Linked DNA regions of Homo sapiens: all the other regions are reported to be linked to region 1. Evidence: microRNA targets listed by miRTarBase, many of them from high-throughput screens and not tested one by one. Region 1 holds a microRNA gene; each other region holds the end of a gene's coding sequence. Distances are from middle to middle.
Evidence for each region. Region 1 holds the annotated microRNA hsa-miR-421 (AUCAACAGACAUUAAUUGGGCGC, at 2,050-2,072, shown strand). A microRNA usually pairs through its seed, bases 2 to 8, with sites in the 3' UTR of a target mRNA and lowers its output. Matches are read on the target gene's strand: a 7mer-m8 pairs with bases 2 to 8, a 7mer-A1 pairs with bases 2 to 7 and ends in A, and an 8mer does both.

Region 1 (4,152 bases):
TGTTAGGCGATTTTGTCATGTGAACTTCATAGAGTATATTAACACAAACCTCTCTAAATGGTATAGCCTATTACACACCTAGGCTACAAACCTGTACAGCATATGACTGTACTGAATACTGTAGGCAATTATAACAGAATGGTAAGTATTTGTGTACCTAAACATATATAAACATAGAAAAGCTACAGTAAAAATATGATATGATTTTGTGGTGGGACAACTGTGGGACAACTGTCATATATGAGGTTCATCATTGTCCTAAACATTGTTAGGCAGCACATGACTGTATAGACATAATAGAACTTATAGGAAAAGTTATAGAAAAACTTATAGAAAAAGACCTTGATGAAAAATACTGTCATATTCTTTGGATGAATGTTGCAATTAACTCCTTTTAGATCATAACTTGACTGTACAGATTGTGCAAGATTGTTTTCTGGGAACAGCTGTATATGAAATGTTGATTCTCAGGGAGACACCTAGACACCTGAATTGCAGCAGACATTTTATGGTGTTGCTAAGTTGCTGGTCCTTCTCATCAGTAGCAGGCCTACTCTCACTGTCACATATCTCCCACGGTTTTTTTTTTTTTTTTTTTTTTTTTTTTTGTAATTAACCAAAAGTGAAGGCTTTTATATCAAAGACTCAATTGAGGAAGCAGTGGCCTTAGTCATTATTGGCATAATTGCTTTAGTTTGCTTATGGATCTTAAAACGTTTATGACTATATCTGCAAGTAAAAAAAAAATTCAATAATTAAAAACCTAAACATATCGAGTGTTTATTTTCTCTTTTTGCAAAGGTATATTCTAAACTCAATGTTCTTCGGGAAATTTTCCAATTAAGGCTCTGAGTATTGATATTTGGGATTTAGAGAATGGCTTTCTATGACCAGAATGGTTAGTGATGAGATTTTATGTAAGTAGGACTGGGTTTTTCAGGGGGCCTTGTGTAACTTGCCATCAAGAGTTGGGAAAGGAGGCCCTGAGCAGTGCAGCAGAGCTATGTAAAGTGAGAGTTTGGGTCTTGGGACCAGGTAGCCTGGGCTCAAATCTGCTCTCACACTTAGCAATGTGGTCTTGAGCATGATTCTTCACTTCCCCAGGACTCTGTTTTCTCTTATGTAAAATAGGAATAATATTTATTTTCAATGATGGGGGTAAAAAGTACTTAAAGGGACTAATTATGTAAATTGCTTAGAACAGGCCTGGAATATACAGCTAAATGCTGTGTCAACTGTTGTTGCTGATAATGGTGTTGACTATGACAAGTATTAAAAGAAGAGATTTGACTAGAGGTACTTATATTTTGAATGATCAGTGACGATGTTAGGGTTGAGAAAGAAAAACAGTAACTGACTTGAAGGTTTTCAATGGTATGTAAGTGTGAGGTCATTTCACCTTTTATTTCTCTGCCAGGTAGAGTGGGAAACCAAATTAATCACTCCATGATCTAGTGACTAATCTATTGCCTTTGCTTTTAGTTCCAAATAGAAAGCTGTTGAAAAGTTGTTGTATTACACCTGCATAAAGGTTATCCTGAAAACAGAAAAATGCATTAGACTTTGTCAAAACTGGATTTGAAACCTAATTCAACTGCTTGCTGGCTGTGTGACTTAAACTTGTTGAACTTCAGTTTCTTCCTCTAATATAACTATTAATTTTCAGAGTTTCCATGAAGATATTTGTAAAGTGTTTGTCATAGGCACTCTATACATTAATTACAGCTATTATTGTTAGATCTTGGGACACCCAGCACGTGACAAAAACAACAGCAGACCCTGGTGCCTGGGAGGACTTCATGGATCCAGCAGCAACCTGGAGTGGTGCTCCTCTGAAGAAATCCTACTCGGATGGATATAATACAACCTGCTAAGTGTCCTAGCACTTAGCAGGTTGTATTATCATTGTCCGTGTCTATGGCTCTCGTCTACCAGACTTTAAATTCCTTAAGGGCAAGGACAGTGCCTTACTCATCTTTGTATTCACAGTGCCTAATCCGGTGCACATTGTAGGCCTCATTAAATGTTTGTTGAATGAAAAAATGAATCATCAACAGACATTAATTGGGCGCCTGCTCTGTGATCTCCATGGGCTCAGCTTGTCCCCGCCAGTTGCCAACAACGTCCAAGCTCTCTTCAGAATGCTTACTCCTGAAGCTTATTCCTGTCTTCTAATTCTTTTGTTGAGGACTTTTCTGTGTAGTGCAATGATAGCAAATACACTTCATCTCAAGTACCATCTCCAATTGATTGATAATGCCTGCCCTGATTATGTTTTATAACAAGATTCTGAAACCAGGTCTTATCTCAGTGTGAAAGACATTTATAACTATTTAGTGATGTCTGCTGAGGGTCGGAGAAGGGGGAGTAGCAGCACAAGTGCCTCATATGTCATATTTGCTACTCTGTTTTCTATGAAATACTTCATTTCTATGCCTGCATTTTGGTCTTAGCTACTTGCTGATGTTGCATGGCTGTTGCTGCTACTGTAATTGCTGCTAATTGCTCCCTGGGTTGGACCAGAGTGCTCATTGTCTGAACAGAAACCTCATCCTCACAGTCTGAGGTTTGCTCCTGTGGCTGATATTTAAAGTTTTCCCCTTTCAACTTTACTCCAGCTATCCCCTTACCTGCACTGACAGGTAATCCTCCACCGTCCTGTTCACCTCTCACCAGGTTCATATTTTCTTTATCTTATTTATTGTACTTAATCATTATTTTGTGAGAAGCTTTTCTGATTGTAGATGTGACAACCAGAATACAAGTTAAAACCACTTATCCAGCGCCTTACAGTGAATCATTTAACATGAGAAAAAAATTGAGTGTGTTTGCAGACCATGGGGCAGAAGGAATTGAGAAGGGAGTCATTGTAGATGTGAGAAAGAGAGAGATGATAATAGATGGAAGATGATCTTGAAAGATGATGCAGGTGAAGCTGGAAGGGTGAAATTTATGGCTCTAGAACACATGCAGGTGGAGGGTTAGCCTTAGGTAAGTGGAACTACCTCTTTGCTGGAGCACAGAGATAGGGATAGGAGTAAGGAAGAGGACTTGGCAAGGGTGGTGAAGATTTGTAATTGTAGAGGTGGATGATGGGGAGGAAGCTGACCAGGAACAGGAATATGAAGACAAAAGCTGCTGGAACAGAAATACTAGAGGGCTAAATATGAACCAGAGTCCCTAAGGAATATTCAGGCCAAAACGCTGGAGTGAGACCATTAACAGGAGAGCTTATGGTATATCAAAGTAAGAAATGAGTTTGAAACTGGGTTAGAAGCTCAGGAAAATATGAAGTGGTTTTGGGGCATTGTCACTAGCAGTATTTGGTTGCCTTGATTGATTGAGGGGTGGACAGCTAGCAAGAGACGAGTTACACAGAAATGGATTTAAGAATCCAAACTAAGGCCGGGCGCGGTGGCCCACACCTGTAATCACAGCACTTTGGAAGGCCAAGGTGGGCAGGTCACCTGAGGTCAGGAGTTCGAGACCAGCCTGACCAACATGGTGAAACCCTGTCTCTACTAAAAATGCAAAAATTAGCCAGGTGTGGTGGCACATGCCTGTAATCCCAGCTACTCAGGAGGCTGAGGCAGGAGAATCACTTGAACCCAGGAGGCGGAGGTTGCAGTGAGCCGAGATCCCACCCACTGTACTCCAGCCTGGGTAACAGAGTGAGACTTCATTTAAAAAAAAAAATCCAACCTGGACATGGAAGGAAGTAAGGTCAGGAGTGGCCTCAGTCTGGGCCAAAAAGAGGCTTTAATGTGAACAAGGTGAGTGCTGAGTAATTGGAAAACTGGAGTGATAGGACCTGTAATCAGAGTAGACTTTGGAGTGTTAGATTTCAAAACTGGAGTGGTTAAGATACCTGTGAAGCTAGGATGTCAGATGATCATTTACATGACTATTATAGTAACCCAGGATTATAGTAGAAGCTAGGCTTAGAATGAACACTGGGCCAGGTACAAAAGGCTTCAGTGACTGTGAGGAATGACTTGGAGGTTGGCACATGTTAACTGCAAATACTAGAGAAGAAAGGCTGTAGTGGGATAGTAGATGAGCCTTAGAAGAGTGGGGGGATCCAGGTGATTCCTTCTTTTATTGAGTATTTGCTCTATGCCTGACACCTTGCTATATGCCATCTGTTCCCTC
Region 2 (4,000 bases), 62 Mb from region 1:
TGAGGGCAGTGGGCTACCACTTAAGGGTTTTAATGGGGGATCCTCGAAAATACTCCTATTGGAAATGTCTCTTGAACTTCTCAAAAATTCTTAAATCTTACTTTATTTGCATTTAGAACCAGGAACAGTTGAAAGATGATGATTCTGATCTTATTCTCAATGATGGTGACATCAGTTTGACATATGGAGATTCTACTGTGAACACTGAACCGGCCACATCCAGCGCCCCAAGGAGATTTATGGGAAACAGTTCTGAAGATGCCTTGGATCGGGAGCTTGCATTTGGGGACCATGAACTGGTCATTCGAGGAACACGCCTGGTTCTTCCAATGGATGATTCTGAACCCCCGCTAAATTTGTTAGATAATACGAGACATGGTCCAGCCTAAGCTTACTAATACTCACTTAGTGATTTGTAAAATTTGCACATGTGATTGTGAAGAAATTTGTACTACCTAAAAGTCCCAGTGCATGTCTCTGAATGTGTAAGCTATATAAATGCTATTTATATGGCATAGAAAGAATATAAATATCCTGTACACGGCAGATTGTGAACAAACTATATTCCTTTAAGTTTTCCTGGTTGCACTCTGTAGACTGGATCTGTTTTAGGAAGTTACTTTCACAGTGATGTTGTGTGTTCTGTTAGTTTTATGTCTCAGTTAAAGTGTAAAAAGTGACGGATTTTCTCTTTCTTAAACTTACCTGACACTTAACCAGAGTACCAGTTCTCGTGATGTGAATTAATTTTTTTGTGTGCTAGGGGAGGGAGAGTGAGGAGGGAGTGTTATTTCCTTGGGAACCTAGGGAGGAGAGGTTCCTTTGTTGGGAAACTTTTGTTGATAGCTGCTGCCTTTGTCCTGATCGTTTTCTTTCCCTTTTCTCTGGTGGCCTGTTGTGGTGCAACGAGCTGATGGCATTTGATCTTGCCCCATTCAGGTTGGGGAGTGAAGTGTGAGGACCCTTTTCCCCCGCTTGCTGTGAAAGCACAGATTCATTGACTACAGTACACTGTTGTTCAGAAAAGAAGGCTGCAAATGACTTCTGAGACTTTATGTCTTTTCTTCCAGACCAAGACCGTAGAAGGAGTCACATCTAGCCGGCTTAGCCAAAGTACAGGTGTATATAGTTCAGGGCACTTGATTTAGATTTGGAGGGGCTGGGGTGGGCAGAGAGCAAGAGGCGAGTAAAGAGAATGGTGGTTTCAGAGATCTCTCTTCCCAAATGTGTAAATATTCTATACCAGATAAGTTTAAATAAGAAATTTAATTGCTGCTTAATTTTTGATTATGTACTTTATCTGTATAGCAGGCTTTGTCGTCAGAAGTTTTTATATCGATTTAAATTGCTGCTCTTTAGCAGCCAAACAGGAGCAAAATGTAAAATTTTTGAACTTACTGTGTCTAATCATCATTTGTTAGTCTGTAGTTAATGTCAACAGTTAATTTATGAACCCACGATCGTTCCACACTGCACCAAAGTCAGTCATAAGAGAAATCGAATATTCTGGAGCACTGATTGCAGCAGGGTGGCTCCTTTGTGTGCAGCAGGTGTAGTAGTCTTCATTTTCATGGTACGTTTTAATATTAATTACCTAAGCTGCCATGCATTTTTTTTTTTACAGTTCTCAAGGAAGAGCACAGAACAATTTCTCATTTCATATTTGGAGTATGAAAGTAGATTCTATTTTGTAATGCTGATAATACCTAAAGATGCATTGAATGCTTGGAAGAATGCTTTTTGATGTTGATTTTGACCTGTTCATGATTCAGAAGAAAAACAAACTTTTTTGGATTTTTTTTCCCTCAGGTCTGAGTAGCATTGCCTTAAATCTTATCCAGTTAGAACATTGATTTATTTACATGATGTTCAGATTTTCCAGTGAAAAATACCCTTCTGAACAAAACATGTACTTACTCTCCGAAAGGCATCTATCTGTGCTATTGCAAACACTCCTTGAGATTTTAGGGGAATTCTAATGTTGTACCCTTTCGTGGCAGCTTTGACTGTTGGCATAGCCATTTGTTATGTAGTGGTAGCGACTTTCCTGCTATGCAGGAATCCCTCCCATGACGTGTATGTTTTACATGATGTGTGCCTCTTCACGCAGTAAATAGTTTCTTGTTAATGTATGTTTGAGGAGTTTGAACGTCAGTGTCACTTACCCACAAAGTTATTCAAGTTGTAAAAGGTTATACAATAATTTAACAACTACCTTTTTTATTCTGTCGGGTTACTGACCTCACTTTATGTAAATACTTCGCATGACAAATTCAGTAACTCGTCTATTTCAGCATGCATAAGACTTTTCACTAGGGAAACTGATAAAGCTTGAGTCAACTAAATCTGCCTTCATACTTTATCAAGGGGAACCAAGCCTGCTGTGCTTACATCAGCATCTGGAAGACTTTCCTCTCCTCTAATCTGTGTACACATCTCCAAGCAAGGAAGAAAAAACAAACTCTGCTCAGACGCCTATGAAACACCTGAATGAACTTTGATGAAGTACAGTCTGAGTTACCATCATGCACAAGTAGAACTGCTCTTGGACTTGTTTTCCTGTTGTTTGTGGAACCTACGCGTTTGAATGGCTTGAACGTTGCATCTTTTAAAGTTATTTTTTAAGGTTTCTTGGCATTTATCCTAGTTGTCCGTGTTTGGCAATGTGCTGTTAAAGTAATAGACTTTTAATCTTTATGTATTTTTTGTTTTCTCTGGAGTACTTGGACAGATGTTATAGTGGTTTCTTTTAGGAAAATCTGTCATTAAAAAAGTTATAGCCTTGCAAATAACCACTCACAGTATTTGAGTCACAGTTTATTTTAGTGAGACGTAAAGAGTGCTGACTTCATTTATTTTTCTACCTATATACCTAGTGGAAAAGGGGAAGACTAATGTTTTCAAATAAACAAACAGAAACCTAACAGAACTTAACTTATGGGTTGGCAAATTTTTGGTGCTTATGTGTAAGGGTGGATGTATTTGCTTATGGTCACAATTGGACTCTTTAGGAAATATGACTCAAAGCTGTCAAATTCTATTACATTGATTTGTAGCCTGTTAGCTTAGTAATGGATAATGTTATAAAAATGCTGGTATGGGGAAAGAGAATTCTATATCCAGTTAGGTGGGAAGGCAGTTCCAAGTATATCCAGTTAGGTAGGAAGGCAGTTCCAAGTTTGGCTAAAAGCATGATCACACAAATACAAATAGTCCTCCTTCCAAGTTAAAGACACGTCTCTCTGTGCATGAGAAGTTTTATAGGCTAGAGTCTGCTGACTGCAAGTTTGTCTAGTCCAGCAATGGCACCAACCACACTGTCTGTTGTGTTTTCTTGTCATCCACTCCAGCTTCCTTGTTTATGGCCCAGTGAGAGACATTGGTGGGGGATGGTCCACACACAACAGGCTCTTTTCTTGAAGGAACCCATGTTTTCTAATTCCCTACACAAAACCCTACATTAGATCTGAGCAGGTACAGTTGTTAACCTGACCCAATGCAGGAGTATAATGAGATGAGAGTCCCCGACAGGACGTACGCCACACAGATGATGTAGTGTGAGGCTTGAAAATAAATTGGAAATGATAATAATAGTTCTCATTTTTGAGCCCTTCTTGGGTACTGGTCATGTGTATACAAGGCATTTTAAAATCTATAATCATGCATTGAGGGCACATTCTATCATCCTCAGTATACAGATGAAACTGAGGTGCAGAGAAGTCACACAGCGAGTAAGTGGCAGAGTCAGGACCCAAGTCAAGTCTGACTCCAAAGCCCAGATGCTTACTATTTTGCTGGCCCCAAAGGCAGGCTCTGCTGATTCATCCTGATTGTAACCAGAAGGATGAAGGGAATTGCAGAATTGCTTTCTAGCCTGCTGCCCCCGACCTGCTTGTCATCAGGCCAGGCTAAGGCATGAAGTCTCAGCTCTGTGCCTCCACTTGCTGCTGTGTTCTTGGCTGTCTTGTTGGCGTTCCCTGGTTGGGAGGGTCCTCGCATT
Region 3 (4,000 bases), not on the chromosome of region 1:
TTTTGTCATAAAAATTCAATTGAATTCTGACATGTTTTGCCTCTACGTGCTCCACCACTGCTTCTTTCTTTCCTCATTAGTTTTTTTGTTTTGTTTAATACAGGGTCTTGTCCAGGCGTGGTGGCTCAGGCCTGTAATGCCAGCACTTTGGGAGGCTGAGGCGGGTGGATCACCTGAGGTCAGGAGTTCGAGACCAGCCTGGCCAACATGGCAAACCCCGTCTCTACTAAAAATACAAAAGTTAGCCGGGTATGTTGGTGGGCATCTATAATCCTGGCTACTCGAGAGGCTGAGGCAGGAGAATTGCTTGAACCTGGGAGACGGAGGTTGCAGTGAGCTGAGATCATGCCACTGCACTTCACTCTGGGGGACAGAGCAAGACTACATTTCGAAAAAAAAAAAAAAAAAAAAAAGACGGGGTCTTGCTCTGTCACCCAGGCTGGATGCAGTGGCGCGATCATAGCCCACCTCAAGTTTGAATTCCTAAACTCAAGGGATCCTCCTGCCTTGGCCTCCCAAAGTTCTGGAAATACAGGCATGAGCCACTGCACTTGCCCTCTAATCAGTCTTTTAAAGAGCTATGAAGTGCTCCTCACTTTTGTGCTCTGTGCAGTGTTAAATATACAAACAAAATAAACTAGGAATAAATCGACATCAGTGTTTAAGAAAAGTGTTACATGTATGTGATGGGATATGAGCTAGAATAAGGAGAGGCAGGGCACTATAGGCTTTTAAATTATTAAAATTTTGTATTATACAGGAAAGAAAGTTATGAAGAAGGTGGCTTTATTGGGACTCTCAGTTACAAGACACAGAAATCCAACTTGAACCAGCTTAAGCAAAAAGGAATTTATCTTTCATGTAACTAACCACCGAAAGATTAGGGGTAGAGCCAGACTCAGGGACAATGGGATTGAGGAGTTCAAACATCCTCAAGTCTTTGCCTTTTTCCCTCTCCTCTCTCATCTTCACAGTCTTTTTTCTAGATTGGCTTCATTCCACTGGGAAGACTGGAACCACAGCCACTTAGAGCTCTGGGCATTCTTTTGTACAAGTGCTTGAAAACATTTCCTGCCAGCTCTAATGAGAACTCCTGTGGCCAGGAACAAGGTCTGTAACTAGAAAGAGTATGGGACAAGTGCAGAGCAGTCGGAATAATCACTGCAAGCTGGGAGTGGCTTAAATGAAATTAGGGAGACCTCTGTTTAGTGATCTGGGAAGACCTATGGTTGATTGTTCAGTCTGCCTGTACTAGTTGCATGTCCCTGAAGAAAAGTGACTGCTTTTTCCCCATCTCCAAGGTTACTGTCTGCTCTGTGGACACCAGAAGGTTTCGGAGTAGAACAGTTGAGGTGGGCCAGTGAGACCAGGACACAGGTTTAAGATACTTCACCCTCCATGAGCCTTAACAGAAGTGGACATTTTCTTGAGCAGGAATTATGCATTAAATCTTGGGATGTACATAGCACAGTGTCTTGCTCCCAGGTGCTCAATCAATATTAATTTACCAATAAGAGAAACAATATGGTACAAATTAACTGCCAATTTCTCTCAATCAAATACTTTGGGTCCTCACTGACCCCAAGAAAGCCATCAGAATGTTCTCATAGGAAACTCACTTTGTAAATTAAGGCACTACCAGCAAGACTCAAGGAACGAAAATCACTCACCTTCCTATTTAAACATCTTCAATGCCATTGCCCTTGCTCACATTACCTTTCAGTTTCTTCTATACAAAGTGGAAATGCAAAGAATATATGGCCAAGCAGTTGGACTTTTTTGCTTAGGCAGAACTTGCCATAACTGATATGAAGAGGATGAGCTCCCCCAAAACATTTTTGGCATCAAACTCTTCCTCAGACTGACAAAGCCCCTTATTTCCATTCCAGTTCTGCATTCTGAAACCCTGTTTTCTAGATTCTGTGCTGTGATCAGGGTCTCAAAAACCTTAAATTTTTTTTAACCATCTATTATTGTCACACATACACACACAAAATTCATGATTACCTGCATTCATGCAGGCTAGATGTTTTCATATTCAATGATAAAGTACATGTTTGTAAGCTCAAGTCCAGCAGTGATCTGTGGTATAAATTGAAGAAAGGGGTAAACCACAAATTTCACCTCTCTCTCTGTTGTCTAGAACACAGTCTTTAAGATAGAAATAATGACCGCTGCTGCTGACATGGTCTGTAGACCACGTAATGACCCAAATAACCTTCATTGCGCATGACTTGTAATGAGATTATATTCTAAAGAGGGCAAGGTATGGAAGACATAATTGGTTTTTGTTAAAATTACATTTTTATGCCCTGATTTTCTGTTAAATTCTTGAGGGAGAAGAATAATTTCTTAGCCAAGCAGTGTTGCAAATCCTGTTCTAAAGTTGTCAGAACATGTTTTATTTCACATAGTAATCATACCTACTGCAGTCTAGCAAAGATACCAATGACAGCCAAAGAGCATTGTGAAATACCCTTATTTTTATTCTGAAGAAATGTACATATGTTAAAGTACTAAATCCAAAGAGAACATATCTGTGAATTGCTAAGAAAATATAGAAAAGTAAAGAAAGTTCTAGTCTTCAAAACAAGTGATAAACTTTTAAAACATTTTTGCACCACTGTAACAACATAGTACACATTTTACTATCTGTCCTAGAGGGAGATATACTAGTAAATTATAGGCGAACTATGACTTACAGTATAGTACATAGTGAATTCCTGATTATGAAAGGTTCAACAATATGAATATTTACAAAGTATTTCAATGTTCTTTTGGTTAAATAGAAGTCTTAAGTAATTATCAAGTGGGCACATTCTTTTTCTGTGGCCTCCACTTCCTATCAATGTGTTGCCTTCTGGGGGACCTGCTTTCCTTTCTGACTCTAGAGTGACCCTTTCGGATGTCTGCTGGTTCAGGCTTAAGTGGGATACCTCCCAGTAATATTTCTACTTGATTTGGAGACCACTGAAATGATAGCTTTCCTCCCTCTCCTCTAATCCACTTATATCCAAGGATCCCTGAATCGGCAAGAGGCCTGGGCTCTGTGGCCTTTTCCCTAGGCGGGACCTTCCTGTTGAATGTTCCTCTGTGTGTCCCCAGCTGGCTGCTATCCTATCCCACAGTTTTTCCCTGCAGAGATTGAGTAGGACAGGGAGTGGGGCCTTGGCTGCCACTTTGGAAAGATTGCCAGTTCCTTCATTTCAGCTCGGAGGCCATCACATTTGCCTAAAGTGTCACTTTTTATATTTTCCAGTTCATTGTGCACCAATTGTAATGAGATAGTTAGAAAAAACAGAAAACTGACACAGGGTTTCTTTTTTTTTTTTTTTCCCTGAAAAATCTAAGCTCTTAAAAGAATCCTGTTAGATTTCTTCAGACTAATTTGCAATTACCTATTCTAAAACAACTAATGTTATCCACATACTGGAGAACCCTACAACAAAACAATGAGACCTCTGTCTAGAGCTCATAACTGAAAGCATATTGACAATGTAAAAAAATTCCTCCCAAATGATACTAAGGCTGATGTGCTTTGTCTTCCAACTCAGCTTAGGCCTTGCTGAGGAGGGATGCAGGTTTTCTTTGTTTAACCCTCTTGTGTGTCACAGAGTAGCTTTGCTTCAGGTAGAGGGAGTGTGTTTATGGCCAAGTGTGAAGATTCTGGAGTAGGGGAGGGGTCCCTCTCCTACCACATTCAACATATCTGAGGCTGTGGCACTCACACACTGAGGACTTGAGGTTTTTTTAAATATTTTTGGAGACAGCACTTAATAAAGCACTTGAGAACCAAAAAACTCAGTTCAATGAAATTCAACACAATACACAAGCATGAGGTGATGACCAAGAAGAGGATGAAGATCGTCTTCTCAGTGGGTTTGGAGATGAAGCAGTCCACAGTGTTGGGACAAGGCTTCAAATCACACTTTATAAGGTAGGGAACACTAAAGCCATCATATAGCTTATAAAATAAAACAAGGAAGCCAATTTCAAAACC
Region 4 (4,000 bases), not on the chromosome of region 1:
GGGATGAAAGTTGTTCTCACTGATAAGTGAGAGCTAAATGATGAGAACACATGGACACATAAAGGGCAACAACACACACTGGGGTCTATTGGAGGGTGGAGGGTAGGAGGAGGGAGAGGATCAGGAAAAATTACTAATGGGTACTAGGCTTAACACCTGGGTGATGAAATCATCTATACAACAAACCCCCATGACGTAAGTTTACCTATGAAACAAACTGGCACATGTACCCCTGAACTTAAAAGTTGTTAAAAAAAAAATTTTTTTAAGAGAGATGAAAGTGACTCAAGAAGCTGTGTCACCAAATCTTTGAGAGCTATGTCACCAAATCAAAAAATAACAGAAAACCAGACAAGATCATAAGAAATCATTTGCACAATCAAGTGGCATCATTCCAAACCACTGGAGGAGCAATGCCCGCTTTCTTTTTAAAATTCTCCTGGGAAAATTACTCCTCAGCCTCCTTTATAAATCCTTGAGGAAATGTCAAGTTCTTTCACGACAAGAAAAACTCTCAGCTGGGCACAGTGGCTCACACCTGTAATCCCAGCACTTTGGGAAGCTGAGGTGGGCAGATGCTTGAGCTCAGGAGTTTAAGACCAGCCTGGACAACATGGCAAAATGTAGTCTCTACAAAAAGATACAAAAATTAGCTGGGCATGGTGGTACATACCTGTAGTCCCAGCTACTCAGGAGGCTGAGGCAGAAGGATCCCTTGAGCCCAGGAAGTCAAGGCTGCAGTGAGCCATATCATGCCACTGCACTCCAGCCTGGGCAAAAGAGCAAGACCCTGTCTCAAAAACAAATAAATAAATACAAACGCTTCTTTACGAAAGTCTCACAAGTTTAGCTGAAAAGAGATATGGACTCTCACATACCTTATTTCAGATCTAAACATGAGTTCCTCATCTATAAAATGGAGCTAATATCACCAATACTATTGGATCATGAACAGAATTAAACCAGTTATTGGTAAATCCCCCAAAATAATAAACAAGCCATGTTTATTCCCTCATTCTATCTTACCTCTTCTCTTAGTGTTTCTCACAGTGTGGAATACCACCATTGCATCAGAATCACTGAGCACTCGCCACAAAGGTTGGTTTCATAAATCCCAGAGGCATCATGGTCCCTCTTTTTTTTTTTTTTTTTTTTTTAGAGACAGGGTCTTGCCCTGTTGCCCAGACTGGAGTACAGTGGCACAATCAAGGCTCACTGCAACCTCTGCAACCTTCTGCCTCCTGGGCTCAAGCAATCCTCCCACCTCAGCCTCCTAAGTAGCGGGGACTACAGGTGGTGCCACCACACCCAGCTAGTTTTTGTATTTTTTTGTAGAGATGGGGTTTCACCATGGCACCCAGGCTGGTCTTGACCTTCCGGGCTCAAGCAATCCGCCCACCTCAGCCTCCCGAGACTATAATCCCTGCTGGGATTACAGATGTGAGCCAACATCCCTGGCCTTAATTCTTTTATTATTTAACAAAAATTTTTTAGAGATAAGATCTCTTGTCTGTTGCCCAAGTGGGAGTGTAGTGGCGCAATCATAACTCACTGCAGCCTCAAACTACTGGGCTCAATCAATCACCCTGCCTTAGCCTCCCTAGTAGCTGGGACTGTCGGCCCACACCTGGATAATTTTTTATTTTTTGTAGAGATGAGGTCTTACTATGTTGCCCAGGCTGGTCTCAAACTCCTGGCCTCAAGCAATCCTCCTGCCTGGCCTCCCAAAGTGCTGGGATTACAGGCTTGAGCTACCACACCCTGCCATGACTCTTTAATTCTGCATTTTTGTCAGATACTACAAGTGATCCTTAGGTACTGTAAAGCGTAAGGACCATTAAAATTAAACTATTTTAATATATTTTATTACCTCATTAGGCTCAGAAACAATTAAAAATCTTCTTTCCCCCTAAAATACTTTAAAAACTTGAAGGTGTTCCTCAAGGACAGGAAAGTAAGATCTGGGGCCCTCCTATTTTAAATTAAAAACCCAAATTATTTGACCCATTCTTCTAAGGGTATATATTGTTCATACTTCAAGCATCTGTCTTCCTCTCTAAAGCCTCCCTAGTTTCTTCATCTGTCTACTTAGGAGCAACTTAAACTAGACTATAATCTATCACAGCTCAAAAAGAAAAGAGTACTTACTAAATGATCCCAAATTAAACTCGTTTAAAATTAATAAGTCAAATAAAATTAATAATTCCATTCTTCTTAGATAGCCAGTAGGAATAGCAGCTTCTTCCAAGCATGAGAGAATGGGTGTGCCTTTTATGCCCAAATCAAGAAATACCAAAAAACAAACAAACAAACAAACAAAAAACTGTCATGAATTTTAGTATCTTATTAATTTCTAATTAGATTTTAACTTCTAATTTTGGTAAGTAGTTCAAAATAACAACAACAACAACAAAAAAAAAAACACCTGAAACTAGTGGAAAAAACTTCCACAGCTTTATAATATCGTAGCATTCTTTACACAAAAGTCAATTCCTAAACCCTCAAATTTCAGAACATAAAAATAAATTTCCATTTACAGATTTCCCCCTTCCAGTTCCAAAAGTAGTTATTCTAGAGTAAGTATTCAACACATAAAATTTAGCTGAATCAAATAAAAAACAATCACCAAATGCAAATATCAATTCCAAAGCACAGATTTTATATATACTGCTTTCATATTTCCCTTTTGCTTCTTTTCTAGATAAAAGCAGGAAATTGTAAATATTCACTAAAAAACTCGAACCAAGCACATTGGCCTTTTCAAGTAATTCAGAAAAGGTAGATCATCAAGAGAAACTCCTGAGACACAGCAGTCTTCAGTGCATTCACAAGAGCCTCTGACTATAAGCTTTCTCTAGTTAACCGCCAGAAGATGGATTACTTGTGCTATGCATGCAGATGCACTCAATTTCCTTTACCAGATAAGCTACAAACACTCTACTACCAACCAAACTTGTCCCTTCCATCAAAACATTTTTCATACTCTTTAGCAAAGTAGTCACCCCTCCTAGGAGAAGCTAATTCAAATACACTCATTAGCATCTTTGGTTACAAGAGCAATATAGTGTGTAGATGCAGTTAAGAGTTCTACCATGGCTAAGTCAACATTGGATAAAATCCTATAGGTAGATATAAATGTAACCTGCATTTTCTAAGCTCCTTATAAGTCATCATATTAAGTCCAGATCTTTTTGAAATTTTATACTTATTAAGGGCAGTCATCTCTCACTGGGGCCACTTTCTGTAACTCAGGTCAATTGAGAAGGTCATTGAATATGATTCCTCCAGTCCCTTCCAAGACAGGCTAGGTTTCCAAGGGGCACACAAAGGACAAGAACATGTCCAGCTGGTTCTTCACAATAACTTCATCTGGATGCAGCTTGTGCGGTAGATAATGGGCCAGGGTCATCTCCCAGGCATCGACGAGATATACTCCAACCCCTGAGAACATCCTCCGAAGGATGGTGTCCAGCTGAAAGTTGTACCAGTCGCTGTTGAAAAGGCTCACCTCAGGTCCCAGCTCTTGGGCGTTGGCCGTCCGGATGACCACCACGGTCTTTGGGCTTCGATCGAGGAGCCGAACCACTGCTCGACGGATGTTCCTGAGCCGCCGGATGTACACTTCCAAAGGGAAGGTGCTGAAGTGAGACCATACAGCTATGGCAACCACTGTGTTCTTCCCTCCCACAATGCCATTCAGCTCATTCGCCACATAATGGAGCTCATTGCTAAAGACAGTCGTGAAGCGGATGGGTGGACCATGGCAGCGGTATTTGAGCAGGATGTTGTGCTTCTGGTCCACTGCAAGGAAGGGACCCACATTCTTGGGACTACCCAAGTTAAACTCCACTAAATCTGAAACAAGGAAAACTCAAGTTCATAAAAACCTTCAAACCAAGCACATATATTTTGATTATACCTTATTAAGTGGCTTCAAATAACAATTTTTTTTTAAGTACAACAAAAAGGTACAATATAAATGTAAAGGGAATACCTATTT

Region 2: the mRNA of SLC9A6 is a reported target of hsa-miR-421. The part of its 3' UTR that is shown has no 7-base or 8-base seed match.
Region 3: the mRNA of GJB7 is a reported target of hsa-miR-421. Seed matches in the 3' UTR shown: 7mer-A1 at 3,700-3,706 and 7mer-A1 at 2,738-2,744.
Region 4: the mRNA of NXPE3 is a reported target of hsa-miR-421. Seed matches in the 3' UTR shown: 7mer-A1 at 2,584-2,590.

Annotation. Positions count from the first base shown.
Region 1 is chrX:74,216,312-74,220,463 of GRCh38, reverse strand. MIR421 (microRNA 421) reads left to right here and starts at 2,003; the gene lies at 2,003-2,087. The region is part of intron 5 of FTX (FTX transcript, XIST regulator); the gene reads left to right. It overlaps MIR374B (microRNA 374b), which reads left to right and starts at 1,846; the gene lies at 1,846-1,917. MIR374C (microRNA 374c) reads right to left here and starts at 1,915; the gene lies at 1,846-1,915.
Region 2 is chrX:136,044,336-136,048,335 of GRCh38, forward strand. It overlaps SLC9A6 (solute carrier family 9 member A6), which reads left to right. Exons shown (of 18, transcript NM_001379110.1): 18 at 117-2,934. The coding sequence ends at 389. Among named protein-coding and RNA genes, the nearest start is that of SLC9A6, 61 kb to the left of the region's middle.
Region 3 is chr6:87,280,517-87,284,516 of GRCh38, forward strand. It overlaps GJB7 (gap junction protein beta 7), which reads right to left. Exons shown (of 3, transcript NM_198568.3): 3 at 2,464-4,000. The coding sequence ends at 3,725. LOC124901356 (a long non-coding RNA gene) reads left to right here and starts at 420. Exons shown (of 2, transcript XR_007059667.1): 1 at 420-1,110.
Region 4 is chr3:101,821,259-101,825,258 of GRCh38, reverse strand. NXPE3 (neurexophilin and PC-esterase domain family member 3) reads right to left here. Exons shown (of 8, transcript NM_145037.4): 8 at 1-3,855. The coding sequence ends at 3,305. Among named protein-coding and RNA genes, the nearest start is that of NFKBIZ, 26 kb to the left of the region's middle.